Linked DNA regions of Homo sapiens: region 1 is linked to region 2. The links come from fine-mapping of genetic effects on gene expression. Tissue or cell type: hypothalamus. Region 2 holds a variant in brackets; the other region holds the start of a gene. All regions are shown on one strand. Distances are from middle to middle. Region 1 holds the start of NSUN2 (NOP2/Sun RNA methyltransferase 2). Region 2 overlaps LINC01018 (long intergenic non-protein coding RNA 1018).

Region 1 (5,333 bases), 45 kb before region 2:
CATGCTGTGCCTCCGTGTTCTACTCTGTATGAATGAGCTGTTCAAGTTCTATCATTCAAGGTGACTCTGGCCCTTTGGGAGGCTGCATTCATTTTTCTGCTTGAGTGAATGTAGGTACAATGAAACATGATGTCTCAAGTTAAAAAGCTTCCACTTGGGATGTCAGGCAAAACTTTGTCAAGTGTTCCCTTGATTTCCAACACCACAGTTTTGCTGGCACATGAGGCTGGCAGCAGTGCACATGAATGACACACAGAGTACATGTCTGGATGTGCATTCACAGCAATGCAAAATAGTGCTAGGTATTGTGTACTGAGCACGCAGATGCGCCAGCACCATGCAAGCATTTTAGGGAGTTGCCTTTGCTCTAAATTCATGTGATCCCACAGGGGGGTTCCATCACCATGCCCATTCTACAGGTGGGGAAACCTTGCTGCGGGGCAGCTTAGTAACTCATCCAGGGTCATGACTGATGGGACTAGGATAGCACCGAATACTCTGACCTGAGATTGCTTTTAGCCATAAAGAAACAGACATACAGCTTCTGGTATATTTATGGAAAAGTATATACAAACAGCAAAGTCTGACTAATATTCAAATTGTAGCAATGGTTGATCCCATTCCAAAAAAAAAATAAAGCAATGGTAAAGAGTTTCAGGCACACAGTACTCACTAAGCCTCTGATGAATGTTGACTTGCCCTTGTTTAAAGTGCAAGTCATCAAAGCACACTGAGGACACAGACTGCACCAGTTACAGGGTAAGGTGCTGGTTTTCAGGGAACTCAGGTACCAAAAACTGTGCTGGGTACAACACTGGTTCCAAGTAGTGGAGCTGTGTACTTTCTCTTCGCTGGAATGCATGACACCAGGAGAAAGAAGAGAGGCTTATAAACACACACTGAGTTCTTCCTGTCTCTCTGGGAAGTGAGTGTTTTAAGGTGGGACCCCAAATCAGAAAGGTTGGGTAAACTGCCCATAGTCACACAGCCAGTGAGTTCAACTTCCTTGGGTGTAGAGACATCCTTTTTAACTGTGAAGCTTTCCAGAGCCTGAATGAAAACGTTTAAAATTTAATTTTGAACTTTCGACCTGTCGTTTGCTTTGGCTGTGTAAAAGCCAAAAGATACGACCTGGAGAGAACCCCAACTTATTAGAAGGCTTGAAGATTTCAGACACAGCCAGTTTTCAAATATTCAAAAAAACAAAAACCTTGAAAGATTTAGAAGTCATCTTTAAGACTTCGTTTGTTTAAGGTTTAAGGTTGCTGGCTTTCCACCCCCACAATCCTGGGGTCCCTTGCATAAGGTGGACATGAAAGTCTCTGAAAGTGATCAAGCCTATAAGGAGAAACTGCTAGGCAGTTTTAGGACAGCAGGTTTCCAGTTGCAGCTGATCACTTGGCTGGGAGAAAACAGCTCCACCATCACCAAAGATACCAAAAGGGGAACCGGCAGAAAGGAGTAGAAACCAGTGGCCCTCAAGACCGACCATCAGCATTAGACTCTAGGCCAACCCCCTCCCCCCCGCCCCCACAGTCGTGATCTAAGGGAACAAAATCTAGTCTTCATTTTTATTTTACATTTTTACTTTTTAACTCTTTATTTTTATATATTTAATTTTGAGACAGAGTCTCGCTCTGTCACCCAGGCTGGAGGGCAGTGGCGAGATCTCGGCTCACTGTAACCTCCGCCTCTCGGGTTCAAGCGATTCTTCCATCTCAGACTCCCGAGTAACTGGGATCACAGACAGGCGCCACCGCGCCCGGCTAAGGAAACCAAACCTAGGACCACTGAGTGGCTCTTTCCAGATCAGTTTCATCATGTTTTTTTCCATCACTCCCTTCCAGTCCTTTGTTTCCCGCCCTTTCCAGACGAATCCCTTCTGGTTTCCAAACTCCCGGGGCCGGGGGACTCGGGGAAGGGCACCCGTGCAGATGGGGGACGCCCCGGGGGATCTGGCAGGGAGAGGGCATCTGGGTGGGGGAGGCTTCGGGGAGAGGGCACCGGGCAGTGAGGGGAGGGTCGGAGAGGACGCCGGGCCGGGAGTAGGGTAGGGGGCCGGGGGCCGGGGACGTTACCGATGCCCGTAGTGGACGAGGAACATGGCCAGGAGGATGCAGTTGGGCGCGCTGCGGAGACGCGGGGCGGACTCGCTGGCGTACTGGTAGAGCGGCAGGGCCAGCGAGGGCAGCTCCTGCACCACCCAGGCGGCCCGCGCCGGCACTCGGAGCCTGTGGCTGGGCAGCGCGTGGCGGCCGTACACTGAGTTCGTCTGACGATTGCGCGCGAAGACCGCGCAGCCCACGGCGCACTGCAGGTAGGCGAGCGCGGCCAGCAGGCGCTCCTCCGCCACCCCCGTCGCCGTTGCCATCGCCAGGGCTGGGCAGCGTGCTCCATGCCCCAGAGGCCGCGGCGGGCAACATATAGGGCGGCGGCGCGGGGGCAGGAGGGGCGGCTACCGGAGGGGCGGCTACCGGAGTCCCGCACTGCCGGGACTCTGCAGAAAGGGTTCTCAAGTCAGGCTTCTCCGGGGTAGCCGGGGCTGTGGGTGCGGCCCCGGGGGCGGGGCGAGCACTTGCGCGGGGAGGGACCTGCAAGCGCCCCACCCACGCCGGGGCCGCAGTAACCCCGCGCCGCTCTGCGCACGCGCGGCTTCAGGCTGTCCGCGGAGCTCCTTGAGCCCGCGTGGGAAACCTGGGCGCTTCGCGCGGAGACGCCTTTGTGGCTGCTTCCTGGAGCATTTTTTTCCCCTTAGAGCTGTTCGCTGTTTTCCCTGTCACGCCGCTTTTCTGAAAGACGGGTTGTGCGCTTTGGGCTTATTCCTGGACGGTCCCCAAAGGTCCCCGAAAGGACCAGGCCCGGACACGTGGGGCCTTGGTTTCCGGCCGGAAGTCCCGGGAGGTGTAGGGCTAGAGTTCTGGCCGTGGCGGGCCGGTTTCTGCGTGCTGCGTGCGCGGCCGCGTGGGCTATGGGGCGGCGGTCGCGGGGTCGGCGGCTCCAGCAACAGCAGCGGCCGGAGGACGCGGAGGATGGCGCCGAGGGTGGTGGAAAGCGCGGCGAGGCGGTAGGAGCCGGGACCCGGCGGGCGGGCCAGGGGCTCCTCCTGGGCTTCCCGGACCCCGAGGCCTGCGAGGCGGCGGCGAGGGGGCGGCTCCTTGGGCCTCGGGGTAGACGTCTCTTTCCTTCCTCAGGGCTGGGAAGGAGGCTACCCCGAGATCGTCAAGGAGAACAAGCTGTTCGAGCACTACTACCAGGAGCTCAAGATCGTGCCCGAGGGCGAGTGGGGCCAGTTCATGGACGCTCTCAGGGAGCCGCTCCCGGCCACTTTAAGAATTACTGGTTACAAAAGGTAGGGAGGCAGTGCCTGATTTTTTGGGAGTTGGGGCCAGGATGCTGGAGGTTAAAGGCGACGGTGTTTTCTTCGACAAGTGTTACAGTGCCAGAGAACCGTGGCGTTTCAGCGGTTTGGATTCAGGAAGCATTGAGGTGGGGAGCACAGGGTCCAATGAAATGGTCACGGAGGTATTGCAGGCGCAAGGTTAGAAGACGAAATGAAAATGAGATCTGAGGAAGATTCGGCTCCTGGGGAATCTTCCAGGAGGGAAGCTGAGGGTCTTACCTTTTGGAACGTAAGAGAATTTATAGAGAATGCATAAAACCCCTTGGTTCTCCCCTCCTCCGCGCCCCCCCTCCATCTTTGTAGTTACATCTTTCTAAATGAGTCGCAAGTAAAACTTAACGGTAGGATATGCTTAGGAGAGAAGGAATGCAGTGTTGCTCTTAGGGCTCAAACAGTGTGGATTGCTTAAATTTTGAAGGCATACAGTGTAAAAGTAGTGACTAAAGAATGTTTACTCTCCATGCAAAAGTTGGTTTTAGTTTTAAAACACTTGCAGTCTTAAATTTAAGAAGATACAATGTATTAACTTAGTTTTTTAGATCAGTTTGAAACTTCCTTATTTTTCAATAGCCACGCAAAAGAGATTCTCCATTGCTTAAAGAACAAATATTTTAAGGAATTGGAGGACCTGGAGGTGGACGGTCAGAAAGTTGAAGTTCCACAGCCACTGAGTTGGTAGGTACCACAGTGCTTCATGCCGAATATTTATTTGGGATATTAATCTCTATCACTTGAATTATATTTCTTGGTACTGCATTTGCTGTTAAAGAGCTTGGGTATACTTTGCAAACATCCTAATGTTCTAGTACCTGGTGCTTTTATCAACATTATATTGCTACGCAAGTTTTCATGCGATTTGCGATTTGCAGCTTTATGAGTCACTGATTTCAGCCAGCTCTTCCTAGTACATCCAGCCTCTTCCTTTATGTCACCACTTCCGCCAGCTCCCTTTTACAGCCCTTGTTTTCTCACATCAAAACTGTTGCAGAGTGGCTGCTTTGCCTTCAGAAAAAGGACAGACTTAGCTTGACAACAGTCTCCTGGTAGGTAGTCTCTTAGTGTTTTCCATTACAGACAGGTTACCACTGTCTGCTGTCAGGTTGTCTCCTGGTACTTCGCAGTACAGACTGCACCAGCCAATGTAGCATTTCCGAGTCTCAGCACCCAAGCGTGCTACTACTCTGGGAGCTACCTCTTTCTTGACCTGTCCTGGAGGTGCCTTCTGGGTTACCTATTCCTCATGGCTCGGTTCTAGTCTCAGTTGTATGAAGGTGATCCCTTGTGCTGATAGCATCTTGTAAAGATGCTTGGAGAACTCCGGAGGCGCCAGTCCTTCAGTTAACTTACATAAGTGGGAAAGTCGTTATTATTAACTTTGAGGTATTGAGTTCTCAGAAAAGTAATGCACGAAAAGGTGAATTAAGCCGTTTTTTGTTTGTCTGTTTGTTTGTTTGGAGACGGAGTCTCACTCTGTCGCCCAGGCTGGAGAGCAGTGGCACCATCTTGGCTCACTGCAAGCTCCACCTCCCTGGTTCACGCCATTCTCTTGTCTCAGCCTCCCGAGTAGCTGGGACTACAGGTGCCCGCCACCACGCCCGGCCAATTTTTTTGTATTTTTAGTGGAGACGGGTTTTTACCTTGCTAGCCAGGATGGTCTCATCTCCTGACCTCATGATCCGCCCACCTCGGCCTCCCAAAGTGCTGGGATTACAGGCGTGAGCCACTGCGCCCTGCCAAATTAAGCGTTTTGCATCAACTTTTGAGGTTTTGACTATTCCAGTACGTAGTGTTATCTTTCCTTTTTGGATAACCTTTAGTGTTCGCAAATCAAGGTCAGATTTTCATTAATCATGGGGTACAGATTTGCTTGTTTTTCTTTCATTGGCTATTTGGATTTTCATTGTCCCTATCACAGATAAGCATATACATTCAC
Region 2 (5,380 bases):
CAAGAAAACATACTAACCAGAAAATGCAAAACAGCTCACAAAATGGAAATAAGACTGACATACGTAGGCAAATGCTAATGCAAGATGCAGGTGTGGATACTTAATTTTAATTATGTTTTGAATAGTTAAACACTGAGTTCAATATTTGAGAGATTCAGCTCTGTGAAATGCTCCCTCCCACCCCCTTGCCCAGCCCCATCCTCTGTGGGCAGCCAGCAGTAACAGTTTCCTGTCCATCCCTCGAGATATTCTGTGCAGATAGGTAGATATGATTTTCCCCTGTTAAACATTTTTTTTTTTTGAGACAGGTTGTCACTCTGTCACCCAGGCTGGAGTGCAGTGGCATGATCTTGGCTCACTGCAACCTCCACCTCCCAAGTTCAAGTGATTATCCTGCCTCAGCCTCCCCAGTAACTGGGATTACAGGTATGCACCACCACACCCAGCTAATTTTTGTATTTTTCATAGACATGGGGTTTCACCATGTTGGCCAGTCTGCTCTCAAACTCCTGACCTCAAATGATCTGCCTGCATTGGCCTCCCAAAGTGCTGATATAGGCATGAGCCACCTTGCCCAGCCGTGTTACACAAATATTGACATCTATTCAGAATGTTTTGTTCCTAGGATTTGTTTTTGTTTAATCACAGGTCTGACAGATCATTTCCTATCAGTACATAAGGAGGTCATTCTTTCCAGAGTGGCAGAGGGTCCCTTGTTTATCCAGACCCCTGTGAATACATATGTGGATTACTTCCAATCCTTTGTTATTACCTACAAAGCCTGCAATGATAACGCTGTACCTTTCATTTCAAATATTGCACACGTGTGTGCGTTAGAATAAATTCCTAGGAGTCGTATTTATTGGTCAAGGAGTATGTGTGTTTTAAATTATGATAGGTATTAGGTATGTCAATATATCAAAAAAACACAGTTCATGGCAAGACACAGAAAATAGGGGAACAGGGAAACTTTCTACATTTGATATTTATAAAAGGAATAACCTGTCAAGAACACATGACAGCACTTAATCTTAAAGCACCTTACAACAATCACCACAAACACAAAATAATTCAAAAAGAACTTAAGCACCTTACAACCACCACCACAAATACAAAATAATTCAGAAAGAACTTAAACAAGCACCATACAACAATCACCACAAACACAAAATAATTCAAAAAGAAATAAGCACCTTGCAACAATCACCACAAACACAAAATAATTCAAAAAGAACTTAAATAAGCACCTTGTGACAATCACCACAAACACAAAATAATTCAAAAAGAACTTAAGCACCTTCCAACAATCACCACAAACAGCAAATAATTCAAAAAGAACTTAAACAAGCACCATACAACAATCACCACAAACACAAAATAATTCAAAAAGAACTTAAGCACCTTACAACAATCACCACAAATACAAAATAATTCAAAAAGAACTTAAACAAGCACCTTACAAGAACCACCACAGATACAAAATAATTCAAAAAGAACTTAAACAAGCACCTTACAAGAACCACCACAAATACCAAATAATTCAAAAAGAACTTAAACAAGCACCTTACAACAATCACCACAGATACAAAATAATTCAAAAAGGACATATAAAAGCACCTTACAACAATAACCAAAAAATACAAAATAATTCAAAAAGAACTTAAAAAAGCACCTTACAACAATCACCACAAATACAAAATAATTCAAAAAGGACATATAAAAGCACCTTACAACAATAACCAAAAAATACAAAATAATTCAAAAAGAACTTAAAAAAGCACCTTACAGAAATAATCAAAAATAAAAAATAATTCAAGAAGAATTTAAGCACCTTATAACAATCACCACAAATACAAAATAATTCAAAAAGAACTTAAACAAGCACCTTACAACAATAACCAAAATGCAAAATAATTCAAAAAGAACTTAAACAAGCACCTTACAACAATCACCACAAATACAAAATAATTCAAAAAGAGCTTAAACAAGCACCTTACAACAATAACCAAAAAATACTAAATAATTCAAAAAGAACTTAAAAAAGCACCTTACAACAATAAACAAAAAATACTAAATAATTCAAAAAGAACTTAAAAAAGCACATTAGAACAAAATATTGGGTAAAGCAAAAACTGTTACCAATATAATAAGAAATAGACAAATCTACGGTTATATAAAAAATTTTTAATACTAGCATCTAACAGAAATTGACAAAATACAGGGATTTGAATATCAATTAACGAGCTTGAGTAAACACAGAATAGTGTGATAGAACACATGGTACAGGTGATCAATAACTCAAAAGCATATTCTTTTGAGAAGACCAATAAAATAAGACAAATATATGTTAATTGCTCAAGGAAAACAGAAAGAGAGAAGGTCATTACACTAATGGAGACTCTTACGCTTGCAAGAACATACTAAGTCCACTTGCACACCAATGGATTTGAAAATATACATGAAGTAGAAATAGCCAAGTAGGCACAAGTTAGCAGCATTGTTCCAAGAAGAGAAAAGCCTGAGTAGGAATAATATTCATAGAAAAATGGAAAAGGCATTTGGAGATCTACCCATTTTCATACCCTTTAGCCCCAAGAAAAGAGGCACTAGGCCAGGGAGGTTTCCAGGTAAGTGTTACCACATTTTCAAGAAAGATCTATTTTCTGTGTTAAACTCATTCTATAGAAAAAGCTGGAAATTTCCGCCTGCCATTCTGTGATGCTAGCATATCCAGGAGACTCACGGTAGATGAAGGTACCCACAGAGGAAACACTAACACTCTTACCATCGCCGACATAAATAGGCCTCATAAAACATCAGTGGCACAAATCGAGCAGTGATTAAAAAAATGAGCCTGTCACGATGCATTCATGAAACATAAGGAAGTATACTCTCATATAATGACATGCTTATACATTTATTAATCATTTGTATGATAAAATATATATGAATTTACATCTTTAATATGACATAAGGAATTATAAGGAATATTATGAAGTTAAAGAATAAAATATAATTATTGATACACTAAAATCCAAGATTCATTCCTTATTTTAAAAAATAACAATAAACAAGAGTAAAAGGAAACTTATTTAATTTGATAAGGCGTATGTACCAGAAATCCTGTATCAAGCATCATACTAACGGTAAAATATTTTGTTTTAATTGTTAACATTTTAAATGTATTTAAAAATAGAGAGGGTTTCTCCATGTTGGCCAGGCTGGTCTTGAACTCCTGGCTTCAAGTGATCTGCCCACCTCGGCCTCCCAAAGTGCTGGAATTACAGGCATGAACCATTATGCCTGGCCTTAACGCTAAAATCCTAAAAACAGAAACAAGGTAA[C/T]AGATGTTGCTGTCAACATTCCACATCTGAGGTGCAGCCTTGGGAAGATGAGACTAACACTGCCCCTATTTGCACTTCATATAATTATCTATGTAAGAAAATAAACTGAAAAGGCATAAAAGCTCACAATAGCTTAATAATTTTTTAAAGATGAAAGACATTATAAGAATTTTTTTAAAAAGTGACACACTGGGACAAAGTATTTGCTGTGTATGTTAGACACCCCACATCCATAATATGTAAATAGCTTCTGCAAATCAATAAGAAAAAGATGAGTCATTTGAGAGAAAATTTGGCAAAGGAGTAATTTGCAAAAAAAAGAAAAGGACATACAAATGGCCGATAAACAGCTCCACTTATACTAAAAACTAAAAAATGATAATATGAATGAATTTAAATTTTTACTCTTCAAAGTGGTACAAGTTTAAGGAGTAGAGACATTCAGCTAAGAGGATGCTACAGGGATATGGGTACTTTTGGAATAGCTGGGTCTTCTTGCAAGGTGGGCTTTCCATGTGCTTCTGATCCAGAGAGGTGGTGGTGTTTGTGTTTGACGAAGCTGCTGACACTGCTGTGCTGACATCTGGCGAAGTGAAGGTCTGAGTACAGAGAAGGTGGCTACTCTAAGACTTCCACCGCAGTAGTTGCAAAAAGCCAGCAAATCAGATGGATGATGACCTTCACTTACAGCAGCTGGTCCTCCCATGGTGCTGCTGGACAATGGCCAAGTTCATCCCTGGTCATGGCTGTGCTGGCTGTGACGTCTCCAGAGGTGGCAATCATGGCAGAATCCTTCATTAGCGCGAGATGCACAAAGAATCAGAACAAAAACTGCAACTATGTTCTTAAGCATCACCGGAAAGTCCGAGACCACGTTTTTTGCCTGTACTCTTTCACCGGCTGAAATTAATTCTTAGGACAACATCATCTGCTTGTTATAAACTCAGGCAAGAGGGTGGCATCACACCTTTTCTGCATCATGCTGTATATTGACTTGCTTGTTTTGTTTACTGTCTGCCTCCTTCCCTTTTGAAAGCAAGCTCCATGAGGACAGGGAAGTTCGTCTCCATTCCCAGTGTTGGCCTCAGTAAGTGTTTGTTGAATGAATGTTGGTGAACAAATAAATCCCCAGCCTCTGGTGTTCTGTGCAATCCCAGACTCTCCAGGGGAAGCACTGAATTACTGGTCCCTGCCACAGGAGACTTCTCTGCTGTGCTGATCGGGGTTGCAGTTTGGAAGGAAGGAGGTGGGACCAGCGCTCTGGCCATCCATGCAGGAGGTGTGTAGGGGTCTTTGATTTGCCTCCCTCCCCACACTTATCACGGGACTCAGGGAAGGGCTTTTGACCAACCTGCCGGGGACACCTGTGTAACCAGAGTAGCTAACTCTGATTCAGGCAATGCTCATTCACCGTCTTCTACCTGAGCCACAGCTCCCCTCTTGGAGCCCCTTTTTTTTCTTGGCCAACATTTGTCAAGGGCTTAGTGTCTCAGTTCAACATGGAAACACGCTCCCTGGTGGCATCATGACCTGACTCGTCTTCCATGAAGAAGCTGAGGTGCAGGCAGAGGGGCTTGCTGGGGGATGGAGCTGGGGTTAGCTGCTAGGCTGGGCTGGGACGGGAGCCTGGCCAGGCTGGTTGTGATGCTGGCTGGTGGCAAGGAAGGAGGAAGTGTTCGTGCACCCAGCAGATGTGAATCCATCTTACCTGGTGAATACAATGTCTCTAAGATGCCAGCATGAGATCGCACTCAGTGCTCTGAGGGACAGAGCCTTGTCCTAAGGGAGCCGCAGTCCTTAAGGGAGCTAACCAAGCTGAGGCGCTGCCTGGGGAGGGAGGGTAGAGTAGAAGAGCAAGGCTGAGTGCCAGGGAGGAGGAGGGAGGGGGTGGAAGAGAAGACACGGGTCTGCCTGAGGGTTGGGGCCAGATCTGAGGGACAGGGAGGACTGGGTAGCAAGCCGGGGGCGGAACACCCACTACCCGCAGCCCTAGCCCCACTCCGCTAAGTCTACACTAGGACACTCACCTGCTTTAA

What was found.
Region 1: NSUN2 starts here. The variant in region 2 is fine-mapped to the expression of NSUN2 in hypothalamus (GTEx, PIP above 0.99).

What each region holds. Positions count from the first base shown.
Region 1 is chr5:6,630,615-6,635,947 of GRCh38, reverse strand. NSUN2 (NOP2/Sun RNA methyltransferase 2) reads left to right here and starts at 2,904. Exons shown (of 19, transcript NM_017755.6): 1 at 2,904-3,064; 2 at 3,192-3,349; 3 at 3,971-4,075. The coding sequence starts at 2,969. SRD5A1 (steroid 5 alpha-reductase 1) reads right to left here and starts at 2,508. Exons shown (of 5, transcript NM_001047.4): 1 at 2,079-2,508. The coding sequence starts at 2,371. RefSeq lists enhancers at 1,785-2,296, 2,297-2,808 and a silencer at 2,272-2,661.
Region 2 is chr5:6,586,019-6,591,398 of GRCh38, reverse strand. LINC01018 (long intergenic non-protein coding RNA 1018) reads right to left here. Exons shown (of 5, transcript NR_024423.2): 4 at 5,372-5,380; 5 at 2,899-5,171. Among named protein-coding and RNA genes, the nearest start is that of LINC01018, 6.6 kb to the right of the region's middle. The variant C/T (reference allele first, on the strand shown) is at 3,345.